Homo sapiens: one gene and its partners. Each later gene encodes a partner of the first gene's protein in a complex. Each region holds a gene or a part of one and is shown on either strand. Other genes may lie near its edges. The genes, in order: HDAC1, CDK2AP2, MTA3 and MTA1.

Region 1 (4,075 bases):
GCTGTGCCTAGTGGCACCTGGGCTGGGGAGGACACTGCCCCGTCTAGGTTTTTATAAATGTCTTACTCAAGTTCAAACCTCCAGCCTGTGAATCAACTGTGTCTCTTTTTTGACTTGGTAAGCAAGTATTAGGCTTTGGGGTGGGGGGAGGTCTGTAATGTGAAACAACTTCTTGTCTTTTTTTCTCCCACTGTTGTAAATAACTTTTAATGGCCAAACCCCAGATTTGTACTTTTTTTTTTTTTCTAACTGCTAAAACCATTCTCTTCCACCTGGTTTTACTGTAACATTTGGAAAAGGAATAAATGTCGTCCCTTTAGTGGTGCTTTAATGAGTGGTCTTCTGGGGGTAGGGTGAGAAGATTGGTGGAAAGTAGTTTACCTCAAACCTCAAGGGAGGAGTTAAGGCAGGCAGGTAAGTTTATGGGGTTTTCTTGTTCAGGGGGTTGCCCCAATACTCATGGACACCAGAACGGCAGGGAAGTAGAGTTGAAACCAACCCAGGGACACATAGGAAACAAGCTCAGGAGGATATAGAAATGTACCATTTTATTACAAAGAGGCTCACAAAAATGAAAATAGTATCTCAAAAAGGAAACTAGACTAGCAACCTCCACCTGCAGAATTAGGAGAAGACAGACAGAGGGCAGGCAGTGTTTCTTGGCTCACTTGAGGCCAGTGGGAAGGTACGAAAACAGAACCAATCTAAAAATGGCTGATGTTACTTTAGGAGCCTGAAAAAAACAGGAGATCCTTGAAGACCCAGCCACCCCTTCTAGAATGTTCAATAAGGGCACCTTTCCAAAGCTACTAAGCAGGCACTTGGCATTTCAGGAGTTTGTCTTATGGTTGCATAAAAGTATCCCTTTCACCCAGACCTGGCACCCTTTATGGTTCAAAGTTAAGAACGGGAAGAATGGGTGGCAAGGTGGCTCCTGGAAGAGCTCACCCAGCACAGCTGCCCTGAGCTCGGGGCCTTGGTTTCTGTCCCTGGGGATATTTATATTTAATAAATTTTTATATAAATACACAGAGAAATAGAAAATATAAAATCTGAGGGGTTGGGGAAGAAACGTGAGGGACTCAGCAGGAAGCCAGAGCTGGAGAGGTCCATTCAGGCCAACTTGACCTCCTCCTTGACCCTGTGGAGAGAGCAGAGACTGGCATGAGATGACCCAGCCCAGAGCCTCAGGGCAAAAGTGCAGACAGTGACTTCCACAGGATCCTAGGTGACTACTGGGGGCTGGGGCTCCTAGCTCTGCCTAGAACTGCAGAGCTGGACAGACTGGTCCCTGAAAGAGGCCTTTGTAAGCTGGACCAGCTGTCCCTGTGCCTTTCCTCAGAGTGGTGGGACAAAGGGGCTGGTGCTCCAATGCCAGGGAGATGGCCACAGGCAGCTCCTTCCTCACCCTTTGGCTTCTGGCTTCTCCTCCTTGGTTTTCTCCTCTTCGGTGACTTCTAGAACACAAGAGTACAGGGATGGCCAAGGGCAGCACCTCTGGGAAGACCCATGAGGTCTTCATTTACCCTGAGACCCCTTCCCCAACACTACAGCTCACTGGACATAAAGAGAGAAAAGCCCATCCCTGGTCCTCCCAGTGAGCCCTGTTGAGAACAGGTTGGACTGGTTTCCCAGCCTGCTACAGCCAGAACCTGGTGGGCGGAGGCAGCCCCCTGGGAAACTGGGGTGCAGTGCTGGGAAAAGGGCTGGGGTGGTATGTGAGAGCCGTGCTCAGGCAGTAGAGGTTCATTGTTTTGTGGGCTCTGCCACTTCTGGGAGCCACTGAAAGGCTCAAGGAACTGAGGAAGAGCCCCACAGGAGCTGGCAGGGCCTGAGTCACTCCCTCCTCCCACTGCCCTACATAGATTCATCCTCTCAGGCTCGAGACCCAAGTCCCAGCTGAACCCAAACCCACCTTTCTTCTCCTCTGGGTCTTTCTCTTTTTCATCCTCTGTTTTGACTCTCTTGGCTTTTTTGAAGTTGGAAGAGTTCTTGCGGCCCCCCTCTCCCTCCTCTTCAGAATCGGAGAACTCTTCCTCACAGGCAATTCGTTTGTCAGAGGAGCAGACTGGGAGGGAGTGGGAAGCATGGGTGAGAGGGCAGGCGGGTGCTGATTTAGCTCAGCATCTATGCCCAGTGCTTCCCTGCGTGTCCTCCAAGAGACACCAAGGGAAAGGGAACCAGAAGAGGGAGGAACTCGGGCTCCCTAACCTGTTCCTACAGGCACTGGAACTCGAAAACAGATTTCTCTACAGGTGGGGAGCTTGGAGGGAGTGTGCAGCCAGGAATGGTGGTGGAAGTGTGAGCTGCCTATTGAATGGAAGGCATAGGGCTCTAGGTCTGGGTCTCACTCGAGATGCGCTTGTCAGGGTCGTCTTCGTCCTCATCGCCACTCTCCTCAGGGATGGCGTCCTCAGGAATCGCCTGCATTTGGACCCCAGGTGCGTGCGGCAGCATTCTAAGGTTCTCAAACAGTCGCTGTCTGTGGCCAATGGGAGAGAGTAGCAGGGCTCTGGTCAGGGACAAACCAAAGTCAGGAATGTTCAACCAAGGGGTGGCTGGAGGATATACTCACTTGATCTTCTCCAGGTACTCATTCGTGTTCTGGTTAGTCATATTGGAAGGACTGATGTGGAGCTTGAAATCTGGTCCAAAGTATTCAAAGTAGTCATTGTATGGAAGCTCTGATTGGGGCAGGAGAGAAGACCGTCAAGAGACCTGGCCACCGCACCCTAACCATTTGCACGTAAGCACCCTAAAGCATTTGTAGGTTTCTCTGGGCCTATTTATCCAAACAGAGGAGAATGCCTCCAAGACACTGTGAGACACGGGTACCTATGGGATTTCCATCTTTTTAACATCACTCTCCTATGTCTGTACCAGTGGTGTATATGTCGCTAGGAGAAGGCCCATGTCCCTGGTTTAGGACACTTGAGGCCATGCTCATTATGAGCGCTCCCTTCACTCGCTACTCCAGTTACTCTACAGAGTAGAAATTCCAAAGCTGTAAATTACCAATGAGAACTTTGTCCAGACCAAAAGCAGGAGGGAGAGGGGAGAGAGCTAAAAAGGACTAGGGAAAAAGTGATGGTTATGGTCTGCTGATCACAAGAGGACAGGCAGGAGACTCAGTGACTAGTATCAGAAGAGGAGCGGTCATATGACCAACGGGGAAGGGGTTATAAACTTAAGGACAGATGAGCTCCAGCTCCCACCCAGCCCAGCCGAACCTGGCCCTGCAGCTATTACCATTAGGGATCTCCGTATCCAGGGCCACAGCTGTCTCATATGTCCAGCACCGGGCAACGTTACGAATGGTGTAACCACCGCCTCCCAGCATCAGCATAGGCAGGTTAAAGCTCTTGACAAATTCCACACACTTGGCGTGTCCTTTGGTGGGAGAAGGGGTGCTGAGTTACAGGAGCACCAAGCAGGACCCCGCCCACCCATCCTTGTGCTACCTGGTCTCACCTTTGATAGTTAGATTGAAGCAACCTAACCGATCCCCAGATAGGGAGTCTGAGCCACACTGTAAGACCACCGCACTAGGCTGGAACATCTCCATTACTTTGGACATGACCTAAAATGATACATCCTGGTCACCACCAACCTCAAGAAAGCAATACGAGGTTTGGAGTGGAAAGGCTGGGTGCAACACTTTCCCACCCACTCCTACCTTTCCACTCTCCCTCATGCTATGTGGGAGAGAAAAGGGAGTGCTAGGCTGGAGCCCTTGCTTGCCCACTTGGGATTTCAATTTTCCAATTTAAAAAGTTCTCTAAGACCCTTCTAACACTCTAGTAACACTGAACCTAGAATGGCCTCCCTCTCAACTCCCTAAGTCTCTTCTGTTGCCCAAGCTCTAGTGCCACTTCCTCCAGGAAGCCTTCCTGACCTTTAGCTGCATCTACTCTACTCATTCGGTCTTACAGACTTGAAGCCTTACATTATGAGCAAGCACTTTTAGTTTATCTTATTCTCACAAGCAGAGTCTAACGTTACTGAGACCGAGACCACAACTCCCACTTCTGTAGCCCTTATTAAATACTAGGCACATAGTGGGCAGTCAGTGTTT
Region 2 (6,918 bases), on another chromosome or scaffold:
TCATTTTTTTTTTTTTTGAGACAGAGTCTCACTGTGTCACCCAGGCTGGAGTGCAATGGCACAATCTCAGCTCACTGCAAGCTCCGCCTCCCAGATTCAAGAGATTCTCCTGCCTCAGCCTCCCAAGTAGCTGGGACTATGGGCACGTGTCACCATGCCTGGCTAATATTTTTGTATTTTTAGTAGAGACAGGGTTTCACCATGTTAGCCAGGATGGTCTCGATCTCCTGATCTCGTGATCTGCCCGCCTCAGCCTCCCAAAGTGCTAGGATTACATGCGTGAGCCACCGCGCAAAGTTGAAAGGATTGTACAGAAATACAATGCTGCTCACTAAGATGAAGTTTTAATTCACTGGGCAAGCCAACGAGAGCCCATCTATGGGCTGAATTTAGCAATGGTTAAAGGCTCCAAAATCCAGGGGATGAGCTGTGGGTCTGAGGGCTGAGACCAGAGGGGAGCCCCTAAAGCGTTGTACCAAGGAAGCTGTGCTATCTTCCCCCGAGGTAGACAGAGTCCTCTCTCTAAGATAGGCCACAGTTGTCACCACCCACCTCCCTCACGGAACTCTGTGCCCCTCCTGCCATAGCCCACTGCTCCAAGGAGGAGGGACATCTGAACCTGCTGTAGGGCCAAGCCAGTGGCTCCTGCCTGTAATCCCAGCACTTTGGGAGGCTGAGGTAGGAGGATTGCTTGAGCCCAGGAGGTCAAGACTGCAGTGAGCCATGTTTGCACCACTGCGCTCAAGCCTGGGTGACAGGGTAAGACCCTGTCTCAAAAATAAATAAATAAATATAAATGAATGAATTCAAGGTTCAACCCCTCAGGCACCTCCCAAGCAAACCCCTTCCCCCAAACATGGGTGTTATGGACTAAATGTTTGTGTCTCTCCAAAATTCATATGCTGAAGCCTAACTCCCAGTGTGGCTGTGTTTGGAGATGGACCGCTAAGGAAGTAATTAAGGTTAAATGAGGCCATAAGGGTAGGGCTCTGATTTGATAGGACTAGTGTCCTTTTTTGTTTTTTTACTTTTTTATTTTTTTAAGACAGGGTCTTGCTCTGTTGCCCAGGCTGGAGTGCAGTTGCATGATCACGGCTCACTGCAGCCTCAACCTCCTGGGCTCAAGCAATCCTCCCACCTCAGCCTCCCAAGTAGCTGGGACTAAAGGCACATGCCACCATGCCAGGCTACTTTTTGTAGAGACAGGGTCTCACTATGTTGCCCAGGCTGGTCTTGAACTCCTGGGCTGAAGCAATACTCCCGCCTCAGCTTCCCAGTGTGCTGGGATTACAGGAGTGAGCCACCGAGCCTGGCCCTTCTTTTGTTTTTTAGATGTCGGGTCTCACTGTGTTGCCCAGGCTGGACTCAAACTTCTGGGCTCAATCAAGTCTTCCATGTGAGCTCCCAAGTAGCTGAGATTACAGCCTTGCACCTCCCTGCCCAGCTTCCAGGATTAACGTACTTATAAGAAGAGACACCAGAAAGCTTGTTCTTTCTCTCTGCACCAAGGAGCACATATGAAGACGTGGCCAGAAGGTGGCTATTTACAAGCCAGGAAGGGAGCCCTCACCAGAAACCAACCGTGCTAGCATCCTGATCTCAAACTTGCAGCCTCCAGAACCATGAGAAAATAAATTTTAGTTGTTTAAGCCACCCAGTCTATGGTATTTTATTTTGTTTGTGGAATTAGGCCAGTGGCTATTGCCTGTAATCCCAGCACTTTGAGAGGCTGAGGCAAGAGGATTGTTTGAGCCCAGGAGGTCAAGGCTGCAGTAACTAATAGAATGGGCAGTGGAGAAAGTAGGAAGGTCTAAGGTGTGGAAGTGTCAGAGGTGTTTGAACCAGAGCAACTCCATCTTGAATAGGAGCTGGGTAAAATGAGGCTGAGACCTACTGGGCTGCATTCCCAGATGGTTAAGGCATTCTAAGTCACAGGATGAGATCGAAGGTCAGCACAAGACACAGGTCATAAATACCGTGCTGATAAAACAGGTTACAGTAAAGAGGCCAGCTAAAACCCACCAAAACCAAGATGGTGATGAGAGTGACCTCTGGTCGTCCTCACTGCTACACTCCCATCTGTAAACTGATGCCATGGCAATGTCAGGCAGTTACCCTATATGGTCTAAAAAGGGGAGGCATGAATAATCCACCCCTTGATTAGCATATCATCAAGAAATAACCAGAAAAATGAGCAACCAGTAGCCCTTGGGGCTGCTCTGTCCGTAGCCATTCTTTTATTCCTTTACTTTCTTAATAAACTTGCTTTCACTTTACTCTGTGGACTCACCCTAAATTATTTCTTGTGCAAGATCCAAGAACCCTCTGGTGGGATATGGATCCAGACCCCTTTCCTGTAACAGAAGGAGTTGGGGCTTGGTGGTTTCCAAAGGAGGTATAACCCTCAGTGGCTCCTCTTCACCTACTATCCACAGTAGATTTCTCTGAAGCGCACCCTCAGTGCCACCAGTAGGAGCAGAAGACCTTGGGTGACCTGATCAACACCTTTTCTTTTTAACAGTAGTTGAGTCTGAATATGTATTAGAAAACTATAAATACTGAGCACATGATTAAATGGACATTATGCCTTTTCCTTTCTATTTAAGATTTTGTAAAAGTGAATTAATTACAAGGAAATGTTAAATAGATGGCAAAACTGATGGAGTTTTCCTAATGGCTGGAGTTAGGGAAGCACTGGACTCCGTGGTCAACTCAGCTTCCTTACATCCACGTCACCTAAGGTCCCCTTCCTGACCCTGTGGTTATTTCCACGGCTCCACCTCCACTTCCCAGTGAACTCTCCAGCAGAAAAAAAAAAGGAAAAAAAAAAAAGGCTGGTTCTCAAACACATGTTGTGCTCTCCCATTTCCCAAGATTTTGCACATGACAGTCCCTCTACCTGGAGTGTCCCCTCGGTCTCCGCTTCCACCCCCACCTACTCAAATGCCACCTAGTCTGTAGAGATTTCTGTGATGCCACCCGGCAGGCCCTTCCTCTAAGTTCCAATGCATCCTGTCCCGTTATCCCTTGTGGCCATTGACTTACTGCAATGTAAAGAAGACGTTGCTTCCCTGTCTCAGAGTATAAGGCCTCCTTGAGTACAGAGGCCATGGCCTGTTCATTTCTGTAACCTCAGCGTTCAGCACAAGGCATGGGACGGAGGAGGGAGTCAGAACATGGTTTTTGTGTGTTTTTTTTGGGGGGGGGGTTTGAGACCGAGTCTTGCCCTGTCGCTCAGGCTGGAGTGCAATGGCACGATCTCGGCTCACTGCAACCTCTGTTCAAACGATTCTCCTGCCTCAGCCTCCCAAGTAGCTGGGATTACAGGCGCCCGCCACCACACCGCTAATTTTTGTATTTTTAGTAGAGATGGGGGTTTCACCATGTTGGCCAGGCTAGTCTCGAACTCCTGACCTCGTGATCCGCCCGCCTCGGCCTCCCAAAGTGCTGGGATTACAGGCGTGAGCCACCGCGCTCAGCCAGAACATGCTTGTTGGATGAATGAATGAATGAATGAATGAATGACTGTCCTAGAGATGAAGATCTACAAAGCTGGGAGCATGAAGATACACAAGGCCAGAGAAGTTTGAGTTTGGAGAAGGAGCCTGGGAGAAAGGGTTAGGGAGTGGAGGAGGGTCTGAGGTCTAACTCTGTGGGGAGTGAGACTTGAGGGGAGGGGTCTGAGTGGTGGAGTGGAAAGGTATGGGGGCCCTGTGGGACAGGAAGGCGGAGAATGAAACAACAAGCACTTTATGACTATTCATTTAATCCACACAACCCAATGAGATCGTCATTTTCCCCATTTTACGGATGGGGAAACTGAGGCATACTGAGGTGAGAAACTTGCCTGGGGGAAATCGCTAGTGGGGGTGGTGCTGAGATTTGAACCCAGACGGTTGGCTCCAGTCGGTGCTCTTGACCAGTTTGGTCCGGGGCCCGGCACGCAAGTAATCCCGAAGGTTTGCCCTACGGCCATTGTCACTAACTTAGGCAGCAGCGCGGGGCCTTGGGGGTGCGGGTAAAGGGGTCTTTGAGGTCGCCCTTAGACCTGAGGACGAGCCAAGCCGCAGGAAGAACGGTACGTGGCGGCATCCATGAGGGGCCTGTTGCCATGGGAACAAACGCAGGCCTCGGGCGGGCGCATGCGCAGATCGGGGAGCGGGTGTTGAACCGGTGAAAGGTGACGTAAAAGCGCACGGGGTGGGGCGCAGGGCTCGGGACGTCAAAGCCCTGCGTCCTTCGGCCCCCAGAGCGGAGAAGCGCGCAAGGCACCGGTGGCAGCGGCGACGGCAGCTGCGACAGCAACCCCTGCTGGGCCGAAACTGGGCAGAGCGGAGCAGACGTCTGAAGCAGCGCGAGTGAGGCGCGAGGGTAGCGCCCGCGCCCGGGAAGACCCCTCGGCGCGAACCGGCAGCCCAGCCCCGGGTCCCGGTTCCCAAGGCCCCGCCTCTAGGGCCTGGGGACTAATCGGATTGAGAGCGCGCCGGCCCGGGCCGCGAACTCGCCAATTGCGGAGGGCGGTGGCCACCGCCCAATCCGGAGCAGACAGGTGCGAGGTCCGGAAGGCGGAGGCCAATCGGCGGCGGTTGCGACCTGCTGGGGCAGGTCTCGGCCAATAAGGAGGCTCGAGTGACATCTTCGCGCACCAATCGGGAGTGAGGGAGCATTCGTGCCCGCTCGCCCTTCCGGCCAGACCTCTATTTACCAGGGGCGTGCAGCCCGCTTGCCAATCAGAGCGCGGCTGAGCGGCCCCGCAGCCAACCCCCGAGGAGCGGCCGGCTGGCGTCCGCCGCGCCCAGGAGTTGGGGATGTCCTACAAACCCATCGCCCCTGCTCCCAGCAGCACCCCTGGCTCCAGCACCCCTGGGCCGGGCACCCCGGTCCCTACAGGTGAGGATCCAGCTCCACCCCTGCTCGCCTGCCGGGCGGTCGAGGTCTCGAAGAGAAGACGGCCTGAGTTCTGCAATACTGGGCCTGCCGCCTACCCTCGCTGAGCCTCAGTTTGCTGGCCTGTGAAGTGGGCGTGGTCACGTAAGGGCTTGTAGGTGGAGCGCAGTGGGAGGGATTTGTCCCTGAAGTTGATCAGCATGGAATGAAGCATCCTTTGGAGGGAATCGGGCGAACCCGGTCCTGGGCTTGGAAAAGCTGGGAGGCGGCGTCCCTGCCCCGCGCTGACCTCTTACTCGCGCCTGTTGCTGCAGGAAGCGTCCCGTCGCCGTCGGGCTCAGTGCCAGGAGCCGGCGCTCCTTTCAGACCGCTGTTTAACGACTTTGGACCGCCTTCCATGGGCTACGTGCAGGTGAGTGGGGCCAAAGCCTTGCTTATGGATGCGGACTGGAGTCCCCCTCCCCGCCAGGTGCCTGAGCTCACTGCCCTGTTCTCTTTTGACATAGGCGATGAAGCCACCCGGCGCCCAGGGCTCCCAGAGCACCTACACGGACCTGCTGTCAGTCATAGAGGAGATGGGCAAAGAGATCCGGCCTACCTATGCTGGCAGCAAGAGCGCCATGGAGCGCCTGAAGAGAGGTAAGTGAGGCCAGGCCGCCCTGCTCAGGAAACCGACACTGGACTATCCTTCATGAGGGAAGGAAGGACATCTGGAGGCCACCTGAGCCAAGCCTAGAGGATGTCCAGTATTACTACCAGAGAGGTGTTTTGAATCGAATTGAAATTGAGTCCATTTCCAGGGAAGAGCATGGGAATTTGTATTTCAACAGGGCAACCTTGAGGATTAACCAAACCTCTAATTTCATCTAGCCGTCATTAGATTTGAATTTCTTTTGCCGAAAGTGGAAAGGGAGTGGGGAGGCAGGGGTCCTCCTCTGGAGGGCAGTGGGTGGGGCTGTGGAGGGTTGCTGAGACCCCACCCCACCCCCAGGTATCATCCATGCCCGGGCCCTAGTCAGAGAGTGCCTGGCAGAGACAGAGCGGAACGCCCGCACGTAACAGGAAGCGCCTCGGCCTCAGCGTCTGGACCTATCCGGCCACTGCAGAGCACCCGCTTCTCCCTGGCCTTCATCCCGAGTTGCACTAACCATCCTGGGCTTCCTGTCCTGTGTCCCTTGGTGGGTCCCCTCCAGGAACCAAGGAGTGGCCCTCCAGGTGGCAGCACTAAGGACACCCCCCCACAACAAGAGTTAGCAGCGAGGTCCCCATGAGTCCCACCCATGACCTGCCGACAGTGTTGCCCACCGGAACTTTTGTGGCCCCTACCGCTCAGCCCTTCCCAGCACTTCTCCCACTTTGTCCCGAGCCTCCTTCTCCCCCAGCAGGGGCACAGGCCTGGCACCTCCCTGCCTTGTGTCCTGAGCCATAGTGACTCTTTTATCTGTGTGTCTTTTGCTAAATATGCCCTTTTTATATTAATAAAAGATGATTTGGAGTTGTGCTCTCAGCTCTGAGCCTTTCTGGGTCTGGTTCTTCAGCTAAGCCTGGGTGGGCCAGGCAGAGACAGGGGAAGAGGAGACTATGGATGGGGAGGGTGTGATTAAATGAGGTTTGACTTGCCTCTGTAGGCCATCAGCCTTTGGTGGGACCTGGGCCCTCTCCGCCCCAGCCGTGGCGCTGAGAGCCCTGGGCCTTCCTGTGGTGCCACCAGGGGGCAGCACAGGGCCTGGCTGCTTCCACAGCCCTTGGCGCTGTGGGCAGCCTGGGCCTGGAGGGCGCTTCCTCTGGATTGGCGGTGATGCCTGGCAGCATGGAAATGCCAGTTCACGTAAGCCACTCCCTCACACGCCCTAATGCCCTGACAACACCCCAGCCTCTGAATCAGCCCTGAAGGTCTCTGACTTCTCAGAGAGAAAGGGCACTGCTGCTTCCAGCACTTGGCCTCAGTGTCAAGGGGAGGGGCTGGCGGGGTGCTGCCGTCACTGCCCCAGCACCTTGTAGCAGGCTGGGTGGGATCCCATGAACCCAGCC
Region 3 (7,447 bases), on another chromosome or scaffold:
CCCATTATGACTTAGTCCCTTTTCTACTACCTAAAGGTAATGTTACTAGAGAAGGAACCTTCTTGTGGAAGCAGCCAAATGGCTGAGCTAGCTCCCCTGTGAGGGCATGAGGGAACTATGGGATCCGAAAACACATACTGCCCGAAACCAAGACCTTTAGGGATTTCATGTTTTTTGCACAGGAGATCTATGGAAGAACCATCTCTATGACTAGAGAAGCTACAGAACTCCCAATTCTGTTTCCTTTCTCCTTGGGGCTCTTCTGCTTTGATTCTTGCCATCATATGCCTACACTTCTCTTGGGTTATGTTCCTCTGCCTTTAAAACCCAGGCCCTCCTTAGAATATGAGACAGACTGGCCTTTTCTGAAAGAATTTTACTAAATAAGAGAAGAAGTTAATGAAAGGAAAAAGAAGAGAGAAATAAATCATGGAAAACACGAACCAACAAGATAAAGTCCCTTTTCCAAAGCCTGGCCTCTGGTTTCAGATTAATTACATTTTAGACCTCCAGGCTCCTGTCCTGGGTTCAGTATGACAGAACTCCCAGACTGTGGCCAGCACCAATCTCTTTTAATTTATTTTTTTTGAGATGAAGTCTCGTTCTGTTGCCCAGACTGGAACACAGTGGTGTGATCTTGGCTCACTGCAATCTCTGCCTCCTGGGTTCAAGCGATTCTTCTGCCTCAGCCTCCTGAGTAGCTGGGACTACAGGCGCTTGCCACCATGCCCGGCTAATTTTTTGTATTTTTAGTAGAGATGGGTTTTCACCATATTGACCAGGCTGGTCTCGAACTCCTGACCTCATGATCCGCCGGCCTCGGCCTCCCAAAGTGCTGGGATTACAGGTGTGAGCCACCGCGCTCAGCCAACCGGCACCAATCTCTTTTTATTTTTTCGCACATATAAAAACTCCATCCCTACGTTGAGACAAAAACCAACTCTCCATTTTACCTATTCACCTAAAGCTTTCTTTTTTTTCTTTTGTTTATTTATTTTGAGACAGAGTCTTGCTCTATTACCCAGGCTAGAGTGCAGGGGCATAAACATGGCTCACAGCCTCTACCTCCTGGGCTCAAGCGATTTGCCTGCCTCAGTCTCTTCCAGAGTAGCCAGGACCATAGGTGCGCACCAACTGGCTAACTTTTTTTTTTTTTTTTTGGTAGAGGTGGGGTCTTGCCATGTTGCCTAGGCTCAAATGATCCTCCTGCCTTGGCCTCCCAAAATGCTGGGATTACAGGCGTGAGCCACCATGCCTAGCCACCTATAGCTTTCTTGCTGCATCCACTTCTCTTCAACTAAATGGTAAAGAACTACCTTGTATGTGGTTCTTTAATTGCAACAACTGTGCAAGGAAATTTCATCCATGGAAGGGCTGGATTTGCCCTGGGATTTCTGGCATGGCCTGAGAGACACTTCTTCCTTAGTGATGAGAATAACTGGAATAGAGAGAAGGGACCTAACGCATATGAAGCGCCCAACAAGTGCCAAACACCTTCTATATTTAAATTTTACCAGGCTGGGCATGGTGGCTCATGCCTGTAATCCCAGCATTTTGGGAGGCTGGGCAGGCAGATCACTTGAGGTCAGGAGTTCCAGACCAGTGTGGCCAACATGGTGAAACCCTGTCTCTACTAAAAATACAAAAATTAGCCAGACGTGGTGATGGGCACCTGTAGTCCCAGCTGCTTGGGAGGCTGAGGCAGGAGAATTGCTTGAGCCTCGGAGGTGGAGCTTGCAGTGAGCCGAATCCGAATCGTGCCATTGCACTCCAGCCTGGGCAGCGAGAGCGAAACTCCGTCTCAAAAAAAATTTTTTTTTCTACCATAAGCCTTTGAGGTAGGTATCAACCAGTAGTCATATTTTGTAACCCCTCTTGAGGCTCAGAGGGGTTAAGTAACTTGCTCAAGGTCTTTATAGTTAAACTGCCAAACTAGGAGTGAAGTTAGGGCTGGTTGATGACAAGTTTGTGGTCTAAACCATGTAGCTAAGAAGGGAGAGGCGCCTTTGCTTTTTTAAAGGTGCAGGCTTTCCACCCGTCTTTGGTTGAAAGGTTTCTTTCAATCTACAAACATTTGCTGAACTCCTTTATGTGTGAACCTCTCTGGAATTAGGACATATAAAAGTTTCACAAAGTCCTTGTATTCAGCTCTTCTGATTCTTTGAGTCCACGATTTGTTGGTATTTATTCTTCAGATACTGAGCATCTACTGTGTCAGCTCAGAAATGTAGAGGACATTGGCCTAGGAGCTGGACATGGAAGAGACTAATATATAGAATCTAGAGCAAAAAACGGTTCTAAGGCCTGCCACCATCATTACCTCCTGCTAGTCCCCTTCAAGTCTTTGAGGCCTTTCATGGGGGGCTTCTGGATGAGGCTGTTCCTAAGGGGACATAGGGAGGAGTTTTCTCGGCATCTTTCACCATTTATTGTGGTTAGCACAGTCATCATAAACACCTGGCAAGAGCACTAAGCTTGGGAAATGAGACAGGCACACAATGAATTAACAAAAACAGGGAAAGATTTCGAAGGAGGAGAAATTGCTTATGAAAAATTAATGGGAAAACATCCTAAAGCTTGTGATCCACTTCTTTGCACTTTATGGTTTCTAGGTGGCTTTTGTACTTGGAGAAACACTGTGGTTCAGAACATTCTAGGCCAGAGGAAAGGGCTGATTCATAATCCCAAAATTGCTGCCAGTTTACTGTGTGATTCCAGGTGAATTATTCAACCCTATTTATGTGTCAGCTCAGAAATGGAGTGATGTCAGTTTTGTCAGAATGTTTTTGGTGGGATCTCTGGTAAATGTTGAATGACAGCTATGCAATGTGTGGAACAGAACACTTTTGCTTTCTTCTTTGGGTCAGAATTTGACACATGGCTCAGAATTTGACACACAGCAGAGAACCCTTGGGAATCTGTGGTTTTCTGGGGTTAAAAAGAAAGCAAGAGACACCTGTTATTTGCATGGTGCTCTGTGTTCCCTGGTTTACAAAGCATTTTCAGATATCATCGCAACTGATCCTTACCACACCTGTGAAGGGGGAACTCACGTCCCCATTTTATAGACGAGGAAACAGGTCATAGAGTCAATGTAATTCAATAGTGCTTTATTTTTTATTTTTATATTTTGCCTCAGCTATGCACAGTTTTTTCATCTCAATACTTTGTGATAAGTGACCATCACAAATGTCATCACCAAACCACCAAAACACAACCTTCTTTTCTGGGGGCACCTCTTAGCCCCGCACAGACCTTAAACCCAGAGTCGACAGCACACAGCTGTGTATCACCACACATTCCAAACAAGCCACCACACCAAGAAATCTTCTTCGTGTTTATTATGCAGCAATGTCTGGGAGTACTTTGGAATGGACTGGCTTCTCTAAAGAAAGTTATTTGTGTTCATTTGGGGGATCGCCAGCTAAGATTCAACGTTGTTTTTTTTTTTTTGTATCTGTGAGAGTAGGAAGGCCGTGAAAACAGAGGTTGTTTAGAGAATTGGCCTGGGACAATAACCATTTAGAAGCTTTAGGCACGTAACCAGTTAAGTGTCCATCGACATGAAACTGATTGAATACAATCTCCTCTGTTTGGGGGTGGTGGTGATTGTGAACTGTAGGGCCCTGTTCCCCCATGGACAAAGGAAGCCCCTCACTCCTAAAGGTCCCTTTTCCCAGCAGAACAGGCCCTGCATATACAGTGCCCGTCTAGAGCCAGGGCCTCCATCTGGGTGTTGGACAGTTGGTTCTGCTCAGCCCAGTTTTGGGGTAAACGATGACGCAGTTAGGGTGGCCTAGGAAGGGAGTTTTTCTACCTCTGTCCCCAGCTGGGTCTCTGGCGAGGCGGGAAGCACCCGGAATCTTCCTGGCCCTAGAGCCTGCAGGCTCCAGGCCGGCCCCTTGAATCTCACCGCGAGGAAGGCACCCTGCTGCCTGCACTTATTTGCATCCAAGAGTTTGCATTGAGACTGGCGCTTGCCTACTAGGGCAGCCACAGGGGGGTTCCCCAGGGACAGAGGTAGGGAAGGAGGACCTGTCTTGGGGTGGACAGGTGACGGGGTACCCTGGGTGGGGGAAGAGGTGCTGGGGAGAGGCTAAGCCCCAGCCCCCACTCTAATTCTCTAACAGCCCCTGGTCCGCATTTGAGTGCAGGCCTCTGCCTCAGCCAGGACCCTGACCCCAGGGCCCTCCACTTCCAGCAAGGCCCCCCACCCTCCCTCCCACTCCCACTCCCTTTCCCCTCCCCCTCCCCCCCAATTCCCGCTGGCCCCGCAGCGCTCCAGCCTCCCCGGGCCTCCCCCGGCCCGGCCCACTCGGCCTTGCTAGCCTGGCGCTGGGGGCGGGCACCAGCCCCCACCCCTCGGCGTACCATCCCCTTTACTTCCCCCACCCCCTGTCCCCTCCCTTCCCTCCCTTCCCCCCCGTGGCGAGGCAGCAGCGACGGCGGCGGCGGCAGCGGCGGTCGCGGCTGAGGCTGAGGAGGAGGCGGCGGCGGCGGGCGGGGCTCGGCTCGGGCTCCGCGGGCGGGCGGGCGGACATGGCGGCCAACATGTACCGGGTCGGAGGTAGGCAGGCTCGGCCCGACCCGGCCCGTGTGGGAGCGGGTTCCGGGAGCGGGGGGCCGGGGCGAGTGCACGCCAACTGCCGGGAGCCAAGGGCGCCGGGGCTGAGGTCGCAGTGGGCTGGGGCGCCGGGGCCCGCAGAGGGGCCGGGACTCCCCACCCCCACCCATCCCTTCCCCTCCCCCCACGCGGGCTCGCGAGGGCCCGGGGCCACCTTCACCCTCGCACCCCGCCCAGTGTTTAGGGCCAGGCCTCTACTTGGGGGTACGAATTACCAGACACCCCCCTCCACGAAACCCTCATCGGGGTAGGGCCCGTCGAGCCCCCTGAGAAGGTGGCCTTCTTGCGTGGCTTCTAGGCGCTGGAGAGGATGAGGGGACATCCCCTCTCCTGCTTCTTCCCCACTCAGTGGGAGCCTGGGGTGGGGGTGGGGGTGGGGGCGGTGGGGGCCCAGCCAGGGGCCCAGCTGGACGGGCCTGTTTGCGTGCCGGGGCCCTGCACCTCCCCTTCCTCGGCCCCCCTCCTTTTCGTTTCTGGTCCAGTCCCCCACGAATGGGGCTTCGTGGGAGCTGGGAACCTCAGCCGGAGGTGGGGAGTTGAGCTCTGCCTGGACGTTTGCTCTGCTGCCTGCCTCCTTCCCAGTCTTCTGCGGAAGAGAGAAATAAGGTCAAACAAACTTTCTCCCTACTCACGACGCCCTCCTCCCTCTTTCCTGGTAAAATAATAATTCAGATAAGTGGCGTGTTTGTATGAGAGACTGGCTCTTCCTTCTCTGCTCATTAGCCGAGCTTCTGATGGATGGTGGTGGGAATGGCCTGGCTAAATGAGGCCACTTTGCAGAAGAGAGCGGCGAAAGAGCCACTAAGATAGACAATAACAATGCAGCTGCCTTTCGGATAAACACACAGTGGGAAGTTTCCAGCAAGCCTATTAGATGAGAGGAAAAGCCACACTTGAAAAATTTTATCCTTTTAGTTGAAAGCCTGCAGCAATTTCTTAATCACAAGACATTAAATGGATCTGGATTAAATATGGTAAAAGGGTAAAAAAGATGCTGATATCACCCCCAGAACACTTTGCCTCTTAGAAGTGATCCCCCGGCCCCCTTTTTTCCTCATCTTCCCAGGTAAAACTGTGGAAAAGTTTGTCAGCGTTCTTCCTCTTAACCTGTTCTGCTCATCTGATTTTTTTTTTTTTTTTTAAGTAGTGATTGAAATGTAGGTTGGACTGTGAAGCCTTTCTCCCTGCTCTGAATGTGTCTTAGGTCAATAGTTTTATGTGAGAAGCAGCCTGCAGGGCAAATTGTATTGGAGGAAAAAGATGTGGAAGTAGTTATAGTACAGAGGACACATGTTTAGCGTGCCCTGACTACACAGTGATAAGAGGTGTCTTTTTTGTTTATTATTAAAGAAATGACGTATTGGGACAGAAGTCTAGGAGAAACTGATAAAACATTAATTGAAATGAAAATGCCAAGAAAATAAAGGTCTGTGAATAGTAGGCACGTGAGAGGATATATTAAGGCTGCATTATTATGTTTGCTTTTACCAGTGAATGAATTATGAGCTTAATTTCAAACGTGAAATGCCTAACATAAAAAGTCTTGGATTGACAAATCTGAACTTTCTGTTAAAAAGATTAAGTTCTGTACTTCCTTTAATTACAGATTATGTCTACTTTGAGAATTCCTCCAGCAACCCATACCTAATAAGAAGGATAGAAGAACTCAACAAGGTATACACTGAGTGTTCTTAATTTTAATATTAAAAATATTTATTTTCCCTTGATGGGTAATTGGGTAAAGGGTGGCCTGGTGTGGGGGCTCATGCCTGCAATCCCAGTAAATTGGGAGGCCTGGCGAGTGGATAGCTTGAGCCCAGGAGTTGGAGACCAGCCTGTGCAACATAGTGAGACCCTATCTCTTATTTTTTTTTAATTAATATAAAAAGTAAAAATATGGCTGGGTGCGGTGGCTCATGCCTGTAATCTCAGCACTCTGGGAGGCTGAGGCGGGCGGATCACCTGAGGTCGGGAGTTCGAGACCAGCCTGACCAACATGGAGAAACCCCGTCTGTACTAAAAATACAAAAAAAATAGTCGGGCATGGTGGCACATGCCTGTAATCCCAGCTACTCGAGAGGCTGAGGAAGGAGAATCGCTTGAACCCGGGAGGCGGAGGTTGCGGTGAGCCAAGATTGTGCAATTGCACCCTAGCCTGGGCAATGAGATAAACTCCGTCTCAAAAAAAAATAAAAATAAAAAAATAAAAATAAGCTGGGTAAAGGGGCATAAGAGATGATTTTACTTTCAGTCCCAGACTCTTTGAAAGATGAGATTTTAGGCTGGGCATGGCGGCTCACCCCTGTAATCCCAGCAATTTGGGAGGCCAAGGAGGGGGTGGATCACTTGAGGTCAGGAGTTCAAGACCAGCCTGGCCAACATGGTGAAACCCTGTTTCTACTAAAAAAGTACAAAAAAATTAGCTAGGCATGGTGGCATGCACCTGTAATCCCAGCTACTCAGGAGGCTGAGGCAGGAGAATCCAGGTGGAGGTTGCAGTGAGCTGAGATCACGCCATTGCACTCTAGCCTGGGTGACAGAGCAAAACACTGTCTCAAAAAAAAAAAAAAAAAAAAAAAAGTTGAGATTTTAGAGAGTTATGCACGATTCTGAATTCCGAATATTCTTTTGCTTTTTTGTTACTGAATATTTAAAAGTGTGCAGATATTTTCAAATTGCTTAGAGCCTCTGAAAGAGCAGTTCACTTATGTAACTCAGACCCTTTTTATGTTTAGAGTCATAATGTGTATTTTTCCCTTTTTAGTGAATTAATATTTTCCTCTTCCAGGTTTAGAAGGAGGAAGCTAGGGAACATAATATTGA
Region 4 (6,434 bases), on another chromosome or scaffold:
TGCTTGGGGGCCAGAGCTCTGGGCAGAAACCCTCAGGCGGCTGGGGCCAGGCTCTACATGGCCAGGAGGTTGGGCCTCTGGCTGGAGCACTCCAAGGCCTCGCTGGCCCAGCTGCACTGGCTGCCCTGGTGGGAAGCCACAGGGTCTTCGGCAGGGCCAGCTCTGCCTGCCGGGAGGCAGTCCCCGGCCCACCGCTGCCGCAGACACAGACGCACAGACGGTTTCAGCACAGCTCTGCTGGGGAAGGGGGTTGGGCCCTGCAACCGCTTGCTGCCCCCTGGGGAGGGCAGAGGGCACCGCGCCAGGCCCCAGCAGGGGAAGGTCTGTGGGCAGGTGGGAGAGCAACAGAGCCCAGAGGCTGGGGTGGCTGTCCTGGCTGAGGTGGCCTCCAGGGGCCTCCAGCTCCACGGCAGAGCCACAGCCTAGGGCCGCCCGATGGGGGTGGGGGGCCCAGGGCCTGAGTCAGGGAGAGGGACTGGGAACAAAAGACACAGGGAAGGACCGGTTGGTTTTTTTCCTTTTTATAAGATTTTTTTTCTTTGTTTTTGTTTAATATGAAAATTACTTGAAAAGACAAGGGCCAACCCCGCCAGGCAGCTCGGCCGGCCGCGGCCGCACGATCCTAACATTCCAGGTGTAAGTTACAGAGCTCAAGTTCATCTACAAAAAAAGTAATAAAAATAAAATTTAAAATGGCACCTTCAACAGAACACAACAAAACCTTAGGGCCCGGCCTCCGGGCAAAAGGCCCCGCAGCACAGGGGCACGGGGTGGCCCCTCATCTCCGCTCCAGCCAAAAAGTAAACACAAAGCTAAAAACGACAACTCCTCGGCATTCTCGGAATAAGTTAGCCGCGCTTCTTCCTCTCCTCCCCCAGTGTCCGCCAAGGAGCGCGTTTCTCTGCAGGTGAGGGCGGGAGGTGGGGCACTACCAAACTGAGGGGCGGGCGGCGGGCTGGCTGGGAAGGGGCCGTGTGGGCGGGCGAGGGGCGGGGGGCGGCCGCAGGTGGGGGCGGCCCCTAGTCCTCGATGACGATGGGCTCGTCGTTGACGGGCGCAGGTGGCGGTGGCCGCGGCGGCAGGGCCTGGCTCTGGCGCAGGGCGATGGGCTTGTAGGGCCGGCGGGCAGCACGCTTGGTTTCCGAGGATGAGAGCAGCTTGCGGATCTTCCTGTGGGCAGAGGTGGTGGTGAGGGCCGGGACGCTGTGCGGAGCCCTCCCGCCTGCCCTGGGAAGGCCCCACCTGGTCTCCTCTGTGGCCATGTAGAACACGTCATCCGGGGCGTCGATCCAGTTCATCCGCCGCCGCTTGACTGGGGGCAGGGAGCCCCCCCGGATCAGGCGCACTTTGGTGGGGTAGGACTTCCCGTTGAGCAGGAGGTTCCGGCTTGGTCCCTGCAGAGGGGGTGCACTTCCTGGGCAGCCAGCCAAGGGCCAGCTCCACCTCAACCTGCAGGGCTCCCGCTGGGAGGTGCTGTGCCTGGCCAACCCCCCACCACCCCAGTGAGTTACACGGACCCCCAGCCTGGCCCAGGGCAGCCCTGAGGGCTGGTCGGCCGCACACCGCTGGGCCTGGCACAGGGGCCATGGCCCCCACATGCTGCAGCCCCTCTGGTCTTGCCAGGCCTCCTGGAAGCTTCCACGTGGCACCTGGCAGGGCTGGCCAGGCCTCTTCCCAACACCCCAGAGAGCTCATGGGTGAGCGCACCGTACCCCATCATGGGTTGTTCCTCTTACCATGTGCCTGGCCTGTCCGTGGTTTGCCAGACCTGATGAGAAATGGAGGAGAGAAATGAGGCCCCGAGAGAGCGCGTCCTGCACTCCCACCGCCCACCACGGCCTCAGCCACCTTGGGACAATGGGCCGGGGCCATCTGCCAACCAAGCCACAGCCCACACCCAGGATGGGCCTGGGGGACGTGGGGCCTCGCATCCCCGGGTCCTGGGCCGCCTGGTGGCCCCACAGCTCTCTGGCCAGCAAGAGACACATTGGCTTGGGCTCCAGGCAGGAGGCCAGGAGCCTTGGACCCGACAGTCACCTCCCTGCACAGGGGCCGGGGCTGTCCACCCACTTGCCTGCCGTGCCGAGACAAGCAAAGCCTCGCAAGGCTGTCAGTCCAGCAGCGGCACAAGCCCCTCTGCAGGGCAGCCACGCTGTGGCCGGCACTGCCCCACCAGGAGGCCGGGCTTTTTCCTAAGGCTCTGAGAGAGCCGCCAGCCCCGGCCAGAAACAGGTCACCACCCACTGCCCTGGCTGGGCCCCAGCCACCCTGGCATGTGCTTGGGGATGGGGTGCCAGAGGCCTCTGACTTCCCACAGTGCAGGGTGAGGAGCCCAAGGGGCACTGCGGGAGTTGGGCCAAGAAGCGGGGTCCATGCTCCTGGTCACCCCCAGCTGGGCCCAGGACCGCCGCTGCCCTCCCCCACTCACTGCCCTTCCCCACTGCCCTGTGTGTAGGTGTGGGCGTGTGCATGTGGGAGCTGGTCCCAGGATGGCTCGGCTCCCAGCAGGACCAGCTCAGAGAGGACAGGATGTCATACTCAACTCAGTCAGGTGCCAGGGCCCAGGGGCATCGGAGCAACCTGCCAGCTCCAGAAACGCTGCTTAGCTGAGGCCCATCCCTTAAGGAACAGAAGCAGCCTGTCCAGCCCCTCCCCACCTGCAGTTGCCTCCTAACTTGGGGCACTCCCCTGGGGGCCAACTGGGGCCCTGGAGCCCTGGGTCAGCCTTTCCCTGCCAGTTTGCTTAGCTCTGCCGGGCAGGGTCAGGTGGGGGCCCAGGTGCCTGATCTGCGGCGCTCCCAAGCAGGAACAGCCATACCTCAGGGCACCTGCCACAAGCCAAGGCCCAGCGCCCAGGGCTGGCCAGTAGCACAAAAACTACTTACCCAGGTAAGTGCCTACCAGAGCGGTGGACAGCAGAGGGAAGAAACACATGCTTTAGGTTAGTGAGCCACACGCAGCCATCTGCAGGCCCCGCAGGTGGGGACAGCGCAACAGGCTGCACGGGCAAATGGCCGGGTTAGAGCGCTGGGGCCCCGTGCTGTGGGCAGGCAGGGCCCTCACTCGAGCTCAGCTCATGCCTACCCAGGCTGGACAGAGACCCCACCTCGTGTGCGCCAGTGCCCCCGGGAGCCGTCTTCACCCAGCTGGCCCCTCTCCAGCGCCCAGGTCCTGGCCGCTACACGTCAGGACAGGCGCTTCCTCTGTGGCTGACCCCTCTGAGCCCAGGGCCCCGCCCAGCCAGGCGGCAAGGGGTGATGCTCCCTCACAAGCACTGCATGGCTGGGACTCACGTGTGAGGTGTGGAAAATTCAGTGGGAACAAATAAGCTTTTATGTAACTTGCTGGTTAACCGCTTTTTACAAAACAAAACAAAAAGCTCGAAGATGCCTGCTGACAAGGACTCCCTCCTGTTTCTACCAGCTCTTATGGGGCTGTTCCTGGGACGCCCTGCCATTAGGAACAGACAAGTAAAGCCAGCCCAGAGTGGGCTGGCCCTGGGCCCAGGACTAGGCAATGGGGGCAGCCCCAATACCAGATGGCTGGGAGGGTGCCCCAGGAAAGGAGGGCTGGGGCTGGGGCCGAGACACAGACACCGCCAAGGGATGTCGGGAGGAAGCTGCAAGGACAGGCCAGGGGTGCGTGTCCAGACAGGTGGAGATGGGGGGCCCGGCACCCGATCTCAGGCCCACCCTGCGCTGCAGCCGGCGTGCTGACCCCACAGGACGTGCCTGCCAGGACACCCAGCAGCCTCGAGAGAATGCCCCAAGGGGACAGGGTTGGCTGGGCTGGGCAGCCACTACCCATATCCACCTCCAGGTCGCCAAACCGGCCCTGCTGCCCTGGCCAGCACCGTCAGTGAAAGCCGCCTGGCGAAGGGGCTCCAGGCACATCCACACTGGCAGGCCCAGCACTTGCACACCCGGGCCCCACACACCTGGCCTCCTCATGCTAGGCTTGGTCCTATCTGCTCTTCCCCAAGGGGCCTGGGGTCCCGCAGCCCCTGCTCCAAGCAACCGGCACAGAGCACCTGAGCCAGTCCTCCGACAGAAGGCACCCATGTGTACAAGCTCAGTTGCCCACGGCCCACACAGACACCCCCGACCACCCTCCCCACTGTCCCGCCTGGCAGGCGCACGGAAGGATTGCAGGCACAGCACGGGCGGCCCCACGAGCTGAGGCTGGCAGCATGCGGGCAGTCACAGCGCGATGGCAGACAGCGCAGGCAGGGGCGCCAGGGCCACACGTGCCAGGACAGTCCACTGACAGGAGGCGGGGCCAGGGGGCCGAGGGCCAGATGCCTGGGCTCGGGGGGTCTTCACCAAGGGACCAGTGATGTCGGGAGGAATGTGGGGAACTGGGCTGTGGCCTGGCTCACGTGGACTGCCCCAAGCATGGGCCCTGGGCCGCCCGCCGCGGGGACACAGAGCAGCACAGCACAGGCATCACGGGCGGGGCCGGCGCAGCGCCCGCCCGCGGCTCCAGGCCTTACCCCTACTGGGCATCAAGAGGCGCTTCTTCATGTTGCCTGGCAGCGCCGGGGTGGGAGAGAGGGAGAGAAGACAGCGTCAGCACGCACGGCGGGTGCCCGGGCGGGGACGGGCCGGACTCACCGGGCGGGGAGGGCCACACTCACCGGGCGGGGGGGCCACTCACCGTCCACCCCGTTGTGCTGCTCGTAGCTGCGCTTGCCCAGGATGGTGGGGGAGCCGTTGTTGATGACGGGGGCCACCTTGGCGGGCGTCAGGCTGCTGAGCACGCTGGACACGCTTTTCACGGGGTCAGGCTTGGGGGGGCGGGGGTGGGTCTCTGCCGGGAATGACACAGGCAGAACGAGTTGCCTCTGCCCAGCAGGGGAGGGGCAGGCAGGCCCAGGCTCCAGCCCTCATGGTTCCGGGATACCCCCAGGAACTAAGCCCCATGCGGCCCCCACCCGAGGCCCCATCCTGACTGGGCTGGAAGTGGGGAGGTCACCACAGAACCAGAAGCCCAGAAGCCCTCGGCAAGGCGTGTGCCCGGGCCAGTCCCGCACCCCAGGGCTTCCAGAGAGCAGGGAGACCACCTGGCGGGGGCCAGGCCCCTCAGCCCCGGGACAACAGGATCCATACACAGGCCCGTGAGCACAGCACGCCTATTAAACAGCCCCCACGTCCAGGCCCCCGGAGCTGCTGGTGGAGGGCTGGCTGCTCGTCAGACAGCGAACCAACCATCCAGCCAGCCTGGCCAGGGACACAGCTGCTGAGGACCAGCCCTGACACCAGCCACCTCTTCCCACAGGACAGGGGCCACAACCCCAAACAGGGAGCAATGCCAAAGCCACTTGAATCTCAGAGCACACTTGGCTCATGACTCTGGAATGTCCTTCTCAGGACAGTCACCCTGTGTCGGGAGGGCAGATGCACAAGCCCACTCGAGCCCAGCAAATGGAGGAGGCCCCCCACCGCCACCACAAATGTCTGGCCCAGCCACCAAGCTGCTTCCAGCTGGGCCAGGGTAGCCGGCTGAGGTTCTCGGGTGTCCTCAGATGCTCAAAGGCAAAGGAACCCCCTGCCGCCTGAGGCTGCTCCTCCCCCTGCCGAGGGCGTGCAGAGGCCTGAGTGCTGCCCCTGTGGAGTGGGCGTGGCTCAGGAAGTATACTCCCTGCAGGCAGCAGGTACGACGCTGCCTTAATGGTATTACAGGCAGGGGTGTGCACCACCTAAACCCCAGACCCTCAGGCCCCAGGGACGATCAGAACACAGGGAACAGGGTAGCGAGACTGGCAGGGAAGCCCCCGGGTGTGCCTTGAGGAGGCTGGCCCCGCAGAAGACAGGGCGGCCGCTACTCCGCACTGGGCCCCATCACGACCCCAGGAGCAGGGAGCAGCCTGGGTCCCAGTGGGTCTGCCTGAGCCTGGCACGGTGCAGAGTACCCCAAAAGGACAGTTCCAGGCCCTGGGGGGCTGTCCAGGAGCTCCCAGCTAGAGAAGGCTGGGAGCACCAGTGCATGAGCTTGGGTGAGAAGCTGCCTGCAGGCAGCATTGGGAGCCCCCCAGCACGCCTGGCTGCTCACCAAGATACCGAAGCACGGCTTCCAGCGGCTTGCGTACCGCCTGCTTCAGCACCAGCGGGCTCTGGGAGGCTTCGGGCAGCCGCGCCGTGCCTGCGGGGTACCACACGGTGTGAGGGGTGGGGCACCCCCAGGGGAGCACGGGACCCTGCCTGCGCCTTGACCTGGGAGCCCTCACTGGGCTCGGCCATGTCAGCACCGAGGAGGACGTGGGGCTCCCTGAGATCAGAACTCCCAGTGGGGCTACAGGCTGGGCCCCAAGGTTGCTGCTCTCTCCCCACCACCCGCAGGAACAGAGTAAGCGGGGCGTTGGGGTGACTCACACTCGGCCTTGATGGCCGCGCTGTTGATGGGCAGGTAGGGGTGCCGCGCAGCGTGCCACGGGC

The links.
Region 2: HDAC1 (region 1) and CDK2AP2 share a complex: the UniProt entries of both Homo sapiens proteins name them as parts of the nucleosome remodeling and deacetylase (NuRD) repressor complex.
Region 3: HDAC1 (region 1) and MTA3 share a complex: the UniProt entries of both Homo sapiens proteins name them as parts of the nucleosome remodeling and deacetylase (NuRD) repressor complex.
Region 4: the proteins of HDAC1 (region 1) and MTA1 are in contact, whole or in part, in a cryo-EM structure (PDB 7AO8), measured with the Homo sapiens proteins. Residues at the interface, in NP_004955.2 of Homo sapiens: Lys10, Tyr14, Gly20, Asn21, Tyr23, Gln26, Lys31, His33, Arg36, His39, Asn40, Leu43, Asn44, Tyr48, Arg49, Lys50, Met51, Glu52, Ile53, Tyr54, Arg55, Pro56, His57, Glu63, Lys66, Tyr67, Asp104, Val118, Ala119, Val122; in NP_004680.2 of Homo sapiens: Asn132, Glu135, Ala162, Asp163, Gly165, Glu166, Ile167, Arg168, Val169, Asn171, Arg172, Tyr173, Gln174, Ala175, Asp176, Ile177, Thr178, Asp179, Leu180, Leu181, Glu186, Asp187, Arg189, Gln191, Ser192, Arg193, Leu194, Glu195, Thr196, Gln197.

Annotation. Positions count from the first base shown.
Region 1 is NC_000001.11:32,330,083-32,334,157, reverse strand, and holds the end of HDAC1 (histone deacetylase 1), read right to left. Parts: intron 3,581-4,075; coding exon 3,472-3,580; intron 3,391-3,471; coding exon 3,250-3,390; intron 2,685-3,249; coding exon 2,576-2,684; intron 2,483-2,575; coding exon 2,352-2,482; intron 2,069-2,351; coding exon 1,916-2,068; intron 1,458-1,915; coding exon 1,409-1,457; intron 1,142-1,408; coding exon 1,114-1,141; 3' UTR 532-1,113; downstream 1-531. UniProt on the Homo sapiens protein: Histone deacetylase that catalyzes the deacetylation of lysine residues on the N-terminal part of the core histones (H2A, H2B, H3 and H4).
Region 2 is NC_000011.10:67,505,973-67,512,890, reverse strand, and holds CDK2AP2 (cyclin-dependent kinase 2-associated protein 2), read left to right. Parts: upstream 1-4,728; 5' UTR 4,729-4,808; coding exon 4,809-4,890; exon of another isoform or gene 4,891-5,201; coding exon 5,202-5,299; intron 5,300-5,393; coding exon 5,394-5,526; intron 5,527-5,878; coding exon 5,879-5,946; 3' UTR 5,947-6,394; downstream 6,395-6,918. UniProt on the Homo sapiens protein: Acts as a component of the histone deacetylase NuRD complex which participates in the remodeling of chromatin.
Region 3 is NC_000002.12:42,564,207-42,571,653, forward strand, and holds the start of MTA3 (metastasis-associated protein MTA3), read left to right. Parts: upstream 1-4,425; 5' UTR 4,426-4,539; coding exon 4,540-4,567; intron 4,568-6,230; coding exon 6,231-6,298; intron 6,299-7,447. UniProt on the Homo sapiens protein: Acts as a component of the histone deacetylase NuRD complex which participates in the remodeling of chromatin.
Region 4 is NC_000014.9:105,464,801-105,471,234, reverse strand, and holds the end of MTA1 (metastasis-associated protein MTA1), read right to left. Parts: coding exon 6,372-6,434; intron 6,142-6,371; coding exon 6,052-6,141; intron 4,810-6,051; coding exon 4,657-4,809; intron 4,529-4,656; coding exon 4,493-4,528; intron 2,898-4,492; coding exon of another isoform or gene 2,886-2,897; intron 1,769-2,885; coding exon 1,737-1,768; intron 1,395-1,736; coding exon 1,243-1,394; intron 1,171-1,242; coding exon 1,020-1,170; 3' UTR 506-1,019; downstream 1-505. UniProt on the Homo sapiens protein: Transcriptional coregulator which can act as both a transcriptional corepressor and coactivator. Acts as a component of the histone deacetylase NuRD complex which participates in the remodeling of chromatin.